Linked DNA regions of Homo sapiens: region 2 is linked to region 1. The links come from fine-mapping of genetic effects on gene expression. A gene starts in region 1. The other region holds a variant in brackets. All regions are shown on one strand. Distances are between the middles of the regions.

Evidence for each region. PIP is the estimated chance that this variant, and not a neighbour inherited with it, causes the effect.
Region 2: its variant is the best candidate, but not a certain one, in a credible set for the expression of GPRASP2 in whole blood (TOPMed, PIP 0.77).

What each region holds. Positions count from the first base shown.
Region 1 is chrX:102,709,612-102,714,989 of GRCh38, forward strand. It overlaps GPRASP2 (G protein-coupled receptor associated sorting protein 2), which reads left to right and starts at 2,837. Exons shown (of 5, transcript NM_001004051.4): 1 at 2,837-2,941; 2 at 3,519-3,606; 3 at 4,171-4,238; 4 at 4,578-4,655; 5 at 4,926-5,378. The coding sequence starts at 5,259. ARMCX5-GPRASP2 (ARMCX5-GPRASP2 readthrough) reads left to right here. Exons shown (of 19, transcript NR_146584.3): 5 at 4,171-4,238; 6 at 4,578-4,655.
Region 2 is chrX:103,229,852-103,235,229 of GRCh38, forward strand. No RefSeq gene overlaps it. Among named protein-coding and RNA genes, the nearest start is that of BEX4, 17 kb to the left of the region's middle. RefSeq lists a cis regulatory region at 3,286-3,868. The variant A/T (reference allele first, on the strand shown) is at 3,334.

The DNA of each region.
Region 1 (5,378 bases):
GAGCAAGATCCCAGCGCCTCCAGAATTACCACAGTAACTTGTGCTGGCATAGTTTTCGATACATCTGCAAACTTTCAGAATAGGGAATTGAACAGGAAACCACAGGTGAATGTAAGCACCACAAGAAAGGGGATTCATTTCTCTTTGGTTTATACTGTATGCCCACTGCCTAGGAGAAAGTAGGAGCTCAATATATATTTGTTGAATAAATGAAAGGCATCAGTAACGTTATGAAAGGGGAAGAACAGCTCAGGAAGGCAAAGAGATGTACACGCGCCAACAAATTCCAGCAGACCCAGGCTCTGTTCTCCCAAGCCTGTAATTCATTCATGAGAGTATGCTGTGGAACAGAGAAAATCCACCATTCAGTTAAGGCCATGAAAAAGGCAGAGTTAACGTGGTCTTCCTCTAATACATAACATTCATCTCCAGATGTGGTACAGAATCATCCTCACATGTTTTCTTCATATCAGCAAAATATTGTACAGTTATAGTAAATATCTGGTAACAAAAGCTGTATGGAAATATATGAAAATTCATCATAAGAATAGGGCTCCTGGCCAGGCACGGTGGCTCACGCCTGTAATCCCAGCACTTTGGGAGGCCGAGGCAGGCAGATCACCTGAAGTCAGGAGTTCCAGACAAGCCTGACCAACATAAAGAAACCCCATCTCTACTAAAAATACAAAAAATAAGCCAGGCGTCTTGGGGCATACCTGTAATCCCAGCTACTCAGGAGGCTGAGGCAGGAGAATCACTTGAACCCAGGAGGCGGAGGTTGCAGTGAGCCAAGATGGCACCATTGCACTCCAGCCAGCCTGGGCAACAACACCGATAGTCCCTCTCAAAACCAGCAACAACAACAACAAAAGAATAGGGTTCCCTTTTGTACCTGGGAAATATCAGTGGTTTCAGCAAAAAGGAACTTTCTCCAAGATTACCTATAAGGGACATAAAAAAAATCACTGTCCTTTAGGAAGCAAAGAAGAGGCAATTGATGTTTGTAGTGGTGAGGCATGAGCTCCAAAATAGATCTTCCCCAGAGACTGATCCACGGGTAAAGAAAGTCAAGGGGAATAGACTTCATCAGGATGGTGAGTGTATTAGGTTCATACTGCTGCTTTAACCAATTACCACACATAGAAGGGCTTAAAATAATACAAATTTATTATTATCTTACAGTCCTAGAGGCTGGAAATCTGCAAAGGGTTTCATTACACTAAAATCAAGATGTTGCCAGAGGAGCTATCCCTCTGGCATTTCTAGGGAAGAATCTGTTTCTTTGTCTTTTCCAGGTTCTGGAGACAGCCTGTATTTCTTGGATCTTGGCTTCCTTCCATCTTCAAAGCCAACAATGGCCAGTGTAGACCTTCTCATGATGCTTCAATCTGATATTGAGTCACTGCCTCCCTCTTCCACATTTAAAGTACCCTTGCAATTACATTGGCCAAGATAATCCAGCATAATCTTAAATTAAATTCAGCTGATTAGCAATCTTAATGATCCTTTGCCAGGAAATATAAAATGGTACATGTTCTGGAGAACAGGACATGGACATCTTTAGGGGACCGTTACTTGCCAAACACAATAAGGGTAGCACCTAAATGAGTTTTCAAATGGACAGCAGTAACAACAACATCAACTTCGTATTTAACCACATTGCTCTGTCTGTCCCATGCAGGAAGCAGGGAAAGGAGGGGCTCAAGAGTAGAGGACGGATGTTGGGGTGAAAGAAGAGGATTCAAAAGGAGCCAGGTTGCTTTGTCTCGGGGAGGGGGGTGCACGGTGGGATCCTCTCCTGAGAATGACTGCTGAAACAGCAGGTAGTTGTGGCAGGTGGCTGAGATCCAAGCTGGTTCGAATACCAGCCACATTTCCACACTGCCAAATGTCATGGCAAGAGAAGACTTGACAGGGAACCGAAGAGGAGCCAGGACCATCCCTACCTGGCGGCATCAAAGAGAGAGGACTGTTATGACCTCCTGCGGGTCCTGACAGGGAAAGGTCCTCTTCTGGGGGCAACTGTGGCGACGGCGCAATGCCAACGTGAGCCACCATTTGAAATGAGAAAGAGCAGTGTGGCAGAAAGGAATGAGTTTGGTGCAGACCAGTGGTTGGTTTCCTAGGGTTAGAGGTCTAGGTCTACCTTCTTTTAGAAGAGGGGCAGTGGTGAGTCCTTGATGGGAGCCCCCTGCCCCGGAGTTCACTTAAGAGCAGGTGTACCTTCCTCCCCTGCGTGGCTCCACGAAGCTGGGAAAGAAACGCACAAGAGGACCACCCTAGAGCCCCGGGCCTGTATGGCCTGAAATCGCCTCTCCCCTCCCACACTGCAGTGCTGACACCCCCTTTCCCATCAGCTTCCAGAAAGGAGGGTTAGGGGACTGGGGAGAGGGAGGGGGCAGACACCCAGCAGTCCCTGTGAGGGGGGCGGTTGGGGCGGGGGTGCAGACACATCACGGGGCGGTTTGGTATCCATCCGCTGTTCTCTCCAGCGCGGCTCTTCCCGACCTCGCGATCCTGTCCCCTGCCCGGGCCCCCAGCCGCCCGCTGGTCCCATATATTACAGCAGCGACAGAAATATGGTAGTGGTCGCCACGTTAGGGTCCGTGGGGGCCTCCTGAGGCAGCCTGGTGCCAACCCGCACGCCCAGGCTGGGGCTCATCCTGGCCCTGCCCACCTCGGGGTCGGAACTACGGTGGGCCTGGGATGGGGGCGTCAAGCACTTTCGCGCCGTATCCCTCCGCCCCCCTTCCCGACACCCTCGCGGCGAGCGGTTCTTGCCGCATCCTGCGCAGCCCCTGCCTACTTTGGTGCAGAGGCGTGGGGGGCGGGACGCGTCTTTCCCGTTCGGATCGCGGGGAAAGCAGTGGCTCCAAGTGAGCCAGAGGAGAGCTGAGGAGAGGAGGGGGAGGCCGACGACCTGGGCCCTGGGCCTCTGAAGGCAAGTGCGGGTGCATGAGGTGGGGGTCCGGGTTGCGGGGGTGGTCTGGCAGGGTGGACCAGCAGGCAGCCTGCCCCGCGGACCCTGACAGCCTGGCAACGAGGAGACGATCCGGTCGGAGCCAGGCGCTTGAGAGAGGTGCGCAGTGCCCGAGACCCCTGGCGATGGGGAGGCGGTGACCGGAGCGGGCCTGGCCAAGGGCTGAGGGGCTGGCTCGGGAGGCACCGCCAGATCGTTTGGAGGAGAACCGCGCTGACCGCTTCCCAGCCAGCTTTGCAGGCGCCCGCGCCCCGCCCTCGACGGTGTCTGTGCCCGGAGAGGGCTGTGGGGGAGGCTCCTGCGGGAGAAATGGCGGAGCGGGAGCCGCTGTGGGGGCGCCCGGGAAGGCCGTTGGGGGGCGCCCGGCGAGGCCGGCGGGGGTCGGCGTCCCGGCTCTGTACCCAGTCCGCCGGAGGTGAGCCGCGTTTGCTACTCCGGGTCCCGATTCCCGAAAGGGGCCTGTGGGGCCCCATGTCCTCGGTGCCTTCCCTTCCCACAGGCTCCAGGTTGATGTCAAAGTCTTGTGTCTGTGCGGTAGGTCTGGCGTATTCTGACAGGACACAGTGAGCGTCTGTAGAGGAGAGGCTTGAAATAAAGGAGCACGAATATTGCCTGGATTTCTGGAGGTGTGTGGGGATGGGGGTTGGGCGCTAAACACTGATTGGGGACCCGAATCGGGGTAGGGGACTGTGACCAGAGCAAGTCAGGCATCCAGGAGCACCTCCTAATCTTCACCTCTCTAATGGCGCTCCCCCCACCTTCCATCCCCACCTGTCTCCCCCACCGTCCTAAACTGGGGGCATGAAAGGGTGGGCTTTGGAGGTGGGGGTGATGAGGGAGACATACTGACAAGTACTAATTCACAACCTGTTTTCTAGAATATGCGGCGCCCTTCCCCCATTTTATGCTGCGCAGAGCAAGGGGATGTGGCGCACCTAGTGGTGAATCCTCAGAATTGGAGAAGGGAGTAATGGGAAGAATATGACGTCAAGAGAAGGAGTTGTTATCTCTGGAACCTTGAAGCAGGGCCCAAATAAAACGAGAATATTCCACCAGCAAAACCCCGAATGTTGAAAGACAGATACCAATAATATGGGGACTCTTATCCTTGGCGTTGGCCTGTCTACCAAGTGCTCTTCTGCCACCACTCATATCCTGACTGTCTTACTTTTTCATGTGTTTGTCCATAGGCCTACTTTAAGGCTGGCCAATTCTGCAAGAAAGGCAAGGAGGAGGAGACTGGCTCACAGCTCTGGAGGTTAGTGAGAAGGGGGAGAGGACAATGCAGGGGACAGTTGGAGAGAGCATGGCAGGTGGCAGATCCACTTCCACCTGTAGTAGAAGTGGCAGACCCACTTCTATTCTGCCGGATTTGCACAGTGCCAGCATCCTTTTTATTTCTTGCAGGAGACACGAGATAGGTGTAGGTTGGGTTGTGACTCAGAAAAGACCTGAGAGCAGGGACTAGGACACAGGAAACCATAGATACATTGAACTCTTGAATGGGAAGACAGATATTTGTCACAGGGGCCAGAGTGCCCACCTACCTACCAAGCACTCACACTCCATTCTCTCCTGTATGTTCACTTGTCTGTAGGACCCCCTTCTGTCAGCTGTGGGGCTTGACACCACTTGAACAAGAAAAGGAGGGGGAAACTGCACCACATCAGTGAAGGTTGGTATGAGAGCGGGTATACTTTTGGGCGGGGTAGTGGAGACCAGCATGGGTCCGGGAGTGATTAGGGTCCAATCTGGGGGCTTCTTGGCCCCTCCCATTGCCGACACACTTTCCCACCATTGTTGGACCTGTTTTGTAGGAGGCAGCCGGTCCAGAGAGACTTTCTCAAAGCCCAGCTGTCCCACCTAGCATTCAACATCAGTCGCACTGCATACGTCTCATACAATTGGAAGAGACTCAAAGCCTCATTTCATTCTCTCTCCCTAGATCCACCTCCAGTGGCTGCTCTGCTGGTGGTGGAGTTGCTGCTGACAACCACCCTCAACGGGTCTGCACCCATCCAGGAAATATCTGTCTTCCTTTAGCTTGGTTGTACCTGTTCTCACTCTATCTGTATTATTGAATTATTGACTGAGACTGTGTTTGGGAAGGAGGCTGAGTGACTACTGGACTGGATATTGACTCTAACTCTTATTCCCAAGCTTATATCCTTAATCACCTAAAGATCAGAGTGTGAAGAAACAAACCTGTGACAGATCTGTGGTTGAGGTTTAGACTACGGGAGGAGTATATTACCTGACTTTCTTTGTAACTTGTACCATGACTGGGGCAGAGATTGAGCCTAGTGCCCAGGCCAAGCCTGAAAAGAAGGCTGGGGAAGAGGTTATCGCTGGGCCTGAGAGAGAGAATGATGTCCCTCTGGTGGTCAGACCCAAGGTT
Region 2 (5,378 bases), 520 kb after region 1:
GTCTCTACCATCGTATCACAGGATCAGTTAGCTGTGGATAAAAATTCCTCCAACTCAAATTATTCTGTCTAGCATGACATTCCTGGTGCATATTAAGGTAACCAGGCCTTCCTTGGTTAATCATCCAGGTGATTAAGTTCAGCTTCTTAATTTACTTTACATGAGATCCTGGCATCACTACTGAAATCAAGATGACATATCAAGCTTTAGAGTCACTCTCAGCATCCTCTGCCTAAGGAGAATAGCCATGTTAAGAACTTTAAAAATATACTTGCCTGTTCATTACTCAATTTGCTGTTAGCAGTAACATCGTATGGCCCTCTCTCTGGACATAGTTAGGAAGTAGATGTACTCATAATACATGATAAATACACAATAACATTCCCTTTTCCATGATTCTTTAGGTTCTTGCCTCTACAGCATACTAAGCAATCTCTTGTATACCAATCTCGTTTAGTGTGATCCATCAGAAACCCATATTTCAGTCAACCAACTGAGCAAACAATTAGAATCCAGCTGCGTGAGATAACAGATTGGATTTAGAATCTCTGCTGTATGCACAAATATTGATTAATAGCTAATGATTATTATATATAACAATATATATTATATAATAATAAAATTATTATTAATAGCTAATTAATATTAAATAATAATTTAACAAATTATTAGGCACTTATTATGTGCCTGGTGCTGTCCTAGGTGTTGAGGTTTACAGGACTGAACAAAACAAAACAAAACAAAATATCCCAGTCTTCTTGGAACTTAAGTTCTTATTGAAGAGACAACAAAAGAAGGCTTGTGAGGAAACAGCTGAAGGAGGTGAGGGAGTGATACAGGTGAATATCTCAGGGTAGATTTCTAGGCAGAATAAATAACAAATGCAGTGGCTCTAAGTTGAAAGGATGCCTGACCACAGTAGCTAAAATTATGTTCCTTCCTACCTTTAGCTAATATCCTCAGAAACTATTCTCAAACATATTCTGGAGATTATTGGCAATGTGGCAAATACATTAAACAAGCAGAATCTGTAGGATGAATAATATACCAACTTTTTTTTCCTGCTGCCTATGCAAACCTGTTCTTTGGAACTAGTTCTACTCTTGTCCCCTGGGTGAAATCTAGGGTATGCTCCATAACTTTTCTGCCTGCTCATGTAAAGTAAAAATCCTCCTGTCAGTTCTAGTCATAAAACAGTTTCTGTTCAATGAGGGCAGAGAGGAGGTGAGAAGAAATTAAAATCTTATATAATTGACACTGTTATAGCCATCCAGTATTGGCACTTTCTATGACTCCTTCTCTTGTGTGACATTTTTCAGAGTACTATAGGGAGTCTCCCATTGTTGAGGAGCTCTCCCTTGCTGTTCTCTTGAAAAACATATCCCTGGGCTAGTTGCTTTTGACTCCTTATTTAGCCTTTAACCTTCCAGCAGTATATCTCCAGGTTGTTTATTTTAAGGTGTTTTTTTTTCTTCTCCAAAAGACCATCATGATCTAAATCTATGACATCTCCAAGCTACTTCTGTCTTCCATATGGCCCATGTCAAGTCCACGGGAAGCACTTACACATCCTTTGCCCAAAATGGCTCTCAAATTCAAAGAGTCCAGGCTCTCCCCAAACTTTCTTCACTCTGATATCAAGGTAGCTGGTCAGCCAGTCTCTTGTTTTTTGGATTTCTCAGGGATAATTCGGATGCTTACTATGTTATCAAGTTCCAGGAGCTCTGAATCGCCAAATTGAAGATTTTTGCCTCAAGCTTGATGTGATATGAAAAGCCCCTTGCCTTCCTTATGTGGGGGCACTCATGGAATACCAACAGCTCTCATTAGAAACTCCTTTCCAGGCCAGGTGCAGTGGTTCATGCCTGTAATCCCAGCACTTTGGGAGGCCAAGGCAGGTGGATCACTTGAGCTCACAAGTTGGAGACCAGCCTGGGCAACATAGTGAAACCCCATCTCTAAAACAAGAACAACACCAACAAAAACCCACAAAAATTAGCCAGCTGTGGTGGTGCAAGACTGTAGTCCCAGCTACTTGGGAGGCTGAGGTGGGAGGATGGCTTGAGCCTGGGAGGTGGAGGTTGCAGTGAGCTGAGATTGTGCCACTGCACTCCAGCTTTTTTTGTTTTGTTTTGTTTTGTTTTTGTCTCAACAGGAAAAAAACAAACAAACAAACTTTCTTTTAATCTCCAGCAATCTTCTTGGCCTCTCAAATGTCTTTTGTAGGCTGCAAGTCGGTGGTTATTTAAGTGCAACAAAATCAGTGCTCATTCATGTCCATTGCAAAACCTGCTTTTATTACCTTACTCTCCACTTTGGAATTTAGCAGTAGTTGACACCCAGTTGTCTTGGGGTCCCAACCAAAAATGAGGCTGAAATAGGTAAGGTTATATTTCCCATTATAACAATATAAATATTAAAAAGCTTGTAATGTATCTGGTGTGTGAGCTATTTGATTTTCTAATTTCAATCTTCCCACTTTCCCACACTCCAGCATACTGGGATTTGATTCTAATTACAGATTTAGAGAAAATAAGTACATCTGTGGGGCAATGAAGAGGGAATGAGGACAATTGGTCTCCCTTACAAGGGACCTTGAGGCAGGTTGTTATGGATCTTCAAACAAAGTAGGAACAGCCTCACTCATATAGAGGAAGAGGAGCTGATTTAGCTGGTAAGGAAGACCTAATCAGGGTTGAAACTAGGGATATTCTGAAGCAGAGTTCCATTTTCCCCCTTCTCTATCTTGGCTTCCTCTTCCTTGTACTACCTATTTCTTAAGGCCCAGTCCTGATCATAGGGTGTCGCCAACTAGAAGCAATCTCTTCCATTTCTGTCATTGATGCACAGCACATGGGGCCTTGACCTCTTCTGTGGCCTTTAACAAAGGCTGCCCTGTCTCTTTCATCTTAGGTGTGTGTGTGTGCGCGTGCGTGCATGCATGCGTGTGTGTGTGTGTAGAGAGAGAGAGCCCATCTCCTCAGAAAGTTAGGTGCCAGGGTAGTAGGCAGGTGCCCACTCTCATTCTGCTTTAGTAGCATCTATAATGTTTACTTGGTGTGTCTCCAGAAATCTCAGAGGCTTGAGAGAAGCTATTTGCTGATTGGCTCACAAATATCCCTTTTTACTTCCTGCACCAAGTTAAAAACAAAGATTCTATTGACTCCTCTGCTGCTTACATGTAGTCAGAGGCAACCTTACCATCATTTTAATGGAGTTATTGACAGAAGATATCCTCAATTGGGCATGAAGATGGTGATCCGTTTGTGATCAAGTGCTGTTTTGTGAGCAGTTTCACCACACGTGGGCTATACTTACTTTTGAATTTAACTT[A/T]AGCCCAATGCTGCTTATATCTTTTAGTTTGGTAATGTAGTTACATAGTTCAGTCATAAAACAGAACTAAATGTTTGTTTTTCTTGTCCTCAGCCCTTCCCTTCCCTTCCTCAACAATTCAGTCCCAACACTGTCAGATGGGGAAGGTCAAGGTAAGTGTCTTTATCAGATGAGAGGAGGGAGCTGTGTTTGCCTGAGCAGGGTGAGGAAGGCATTCATGCTGGGAGAGCAGCTTATCGCAGGGAGTCAGAGCCTAAAAATTATGATGAGGGCTTCCCAGACAGGAGACAGCCAAGTGAGAGATATTGGAGTTTTATCTGGTTGAAGAGTGTGTCCATGTGGAGGAAGTGTGTGGCAGACTGGAGCGGGGTTTCAGAGTCTGAGCAGGTTAAGAAGCATGTCCATGCTGCTAACAGTGTGAGGAAGGTACCTGTATGGTAGGAGTTGGGTAGGGAGGAAGTCTGTTGCACTACTTCTCAGCCAGAACAGGTTTACAAAGTGGGTTGGAAAACAGGGACTGTAATCCACAGTTGGGAGGATGTCAAGTGGAGCTTCCAAGCAGGGAACGAGGAGTGCAGGAAATGGGAGATTGTTTACATATAGGGGGATTGGTCAAGTAAAGGTAATGGGATCCAAGGTTCTCATTGTCATTGAAGAGAGTTACAAATATAGAAAGGGAGAAAACTAGAATGAACCTGGTGGTATTGTATTGGAGTTAGGTATCAGTGTGAAGTCATGGCTTCAATGGATACAGATACAGAAATATAGATGTAAATGTGTGAATGTATATGAGTGTGAGAATTTGTGTGTGTGTCTCTCTGTGTATATACAAATATTGCCTGATTCCTTCCACTTAGAGGGCCTGGGAGTCACAACACCCCAATAGCAATAAGCACAACTAATTGTTCATATCTTGCTTTCAAAATGCCATTATTAAATAAAAGGAACAAGGAATCCTTGGAGAATTGTTGGATGGGACAGGAAAATAACGCAATGAATCTGGAACATCTTGCTGTGCCAGAAAGCAAAGTGCTAAAGAAATGATGGAGGCATACCAAAAGGACGTGGAAGCAAGCCTGAAGAAGCTTCTACAAGTCAAGTAGGAGACACTGTGAGCATCAAAATAAAGAAATATAGAACACAGTATAGCTTGTTGAATCAAAAAAAGAAAACATAAGTCAGTATATAAATAAATATACATATATAAATACACAATAAATATTTACATAATTTCAAAATTCCTCACCATAAAATATTAATAATTACCATGGAAAAACGAGTACCGAAATGGCCTGGAAATCACTATCTTAAACAAATGGTCAATGAGGATATTATAAGTAATGGGACAAACCAAAATTCTGTGCCACCTGATAGGACAGAAAGAGAATACTATAGGCCAGGCGCGGTGGCTCACTCCTGTAATCCCAGCACTTTGGGAGGCCGAGGCAGGCGGATCACGAGATCAGCAGATAGAGACCATCCTGGCTAACACGGTGAAACCCCATCTCTACTAAAAATACAAAAAATTAGCCGGGTGTGGTCACTGGCTCCTGTAGTTCCAGCTACTCGGGAGGCTGAGGCAGGAGAATGGCGTGAACCTGCGAGGCAGAGCTTGCAGTGAGCAGAGATCATGCCACTGCACTCCAGCCTGGGCCACTGAGCGAGACTCCGTCTCAAAAAAAAAAGAGAGAATACTACAACATCACTTTGGTAATAGTCCTGCCAAAGATGCATAACTTGAATCCATTCAAGAGGAAATAGGAAGCAAATCCAAAATAAGGGACATTCTAGAAAATAACAACTGTAAGATCATGAAAGTCAACAAAAGCCTAAGGACATACTCTATATGAAAGGATAATAAAGAGTCACCAATTAAATGCAACAGGTGATTGTGAACTGGATCCTTTTGCTATAAAGAACATTGCTGGAATAACGTGAAAATTTATTGGGTTCTAAGTTTAGATGGCAATAATATATCAATGTTAATTTTTAAAATTTTGATCATCATATTGCAGTTATATAGGAAAATGTCTCTTTGGGGGAAA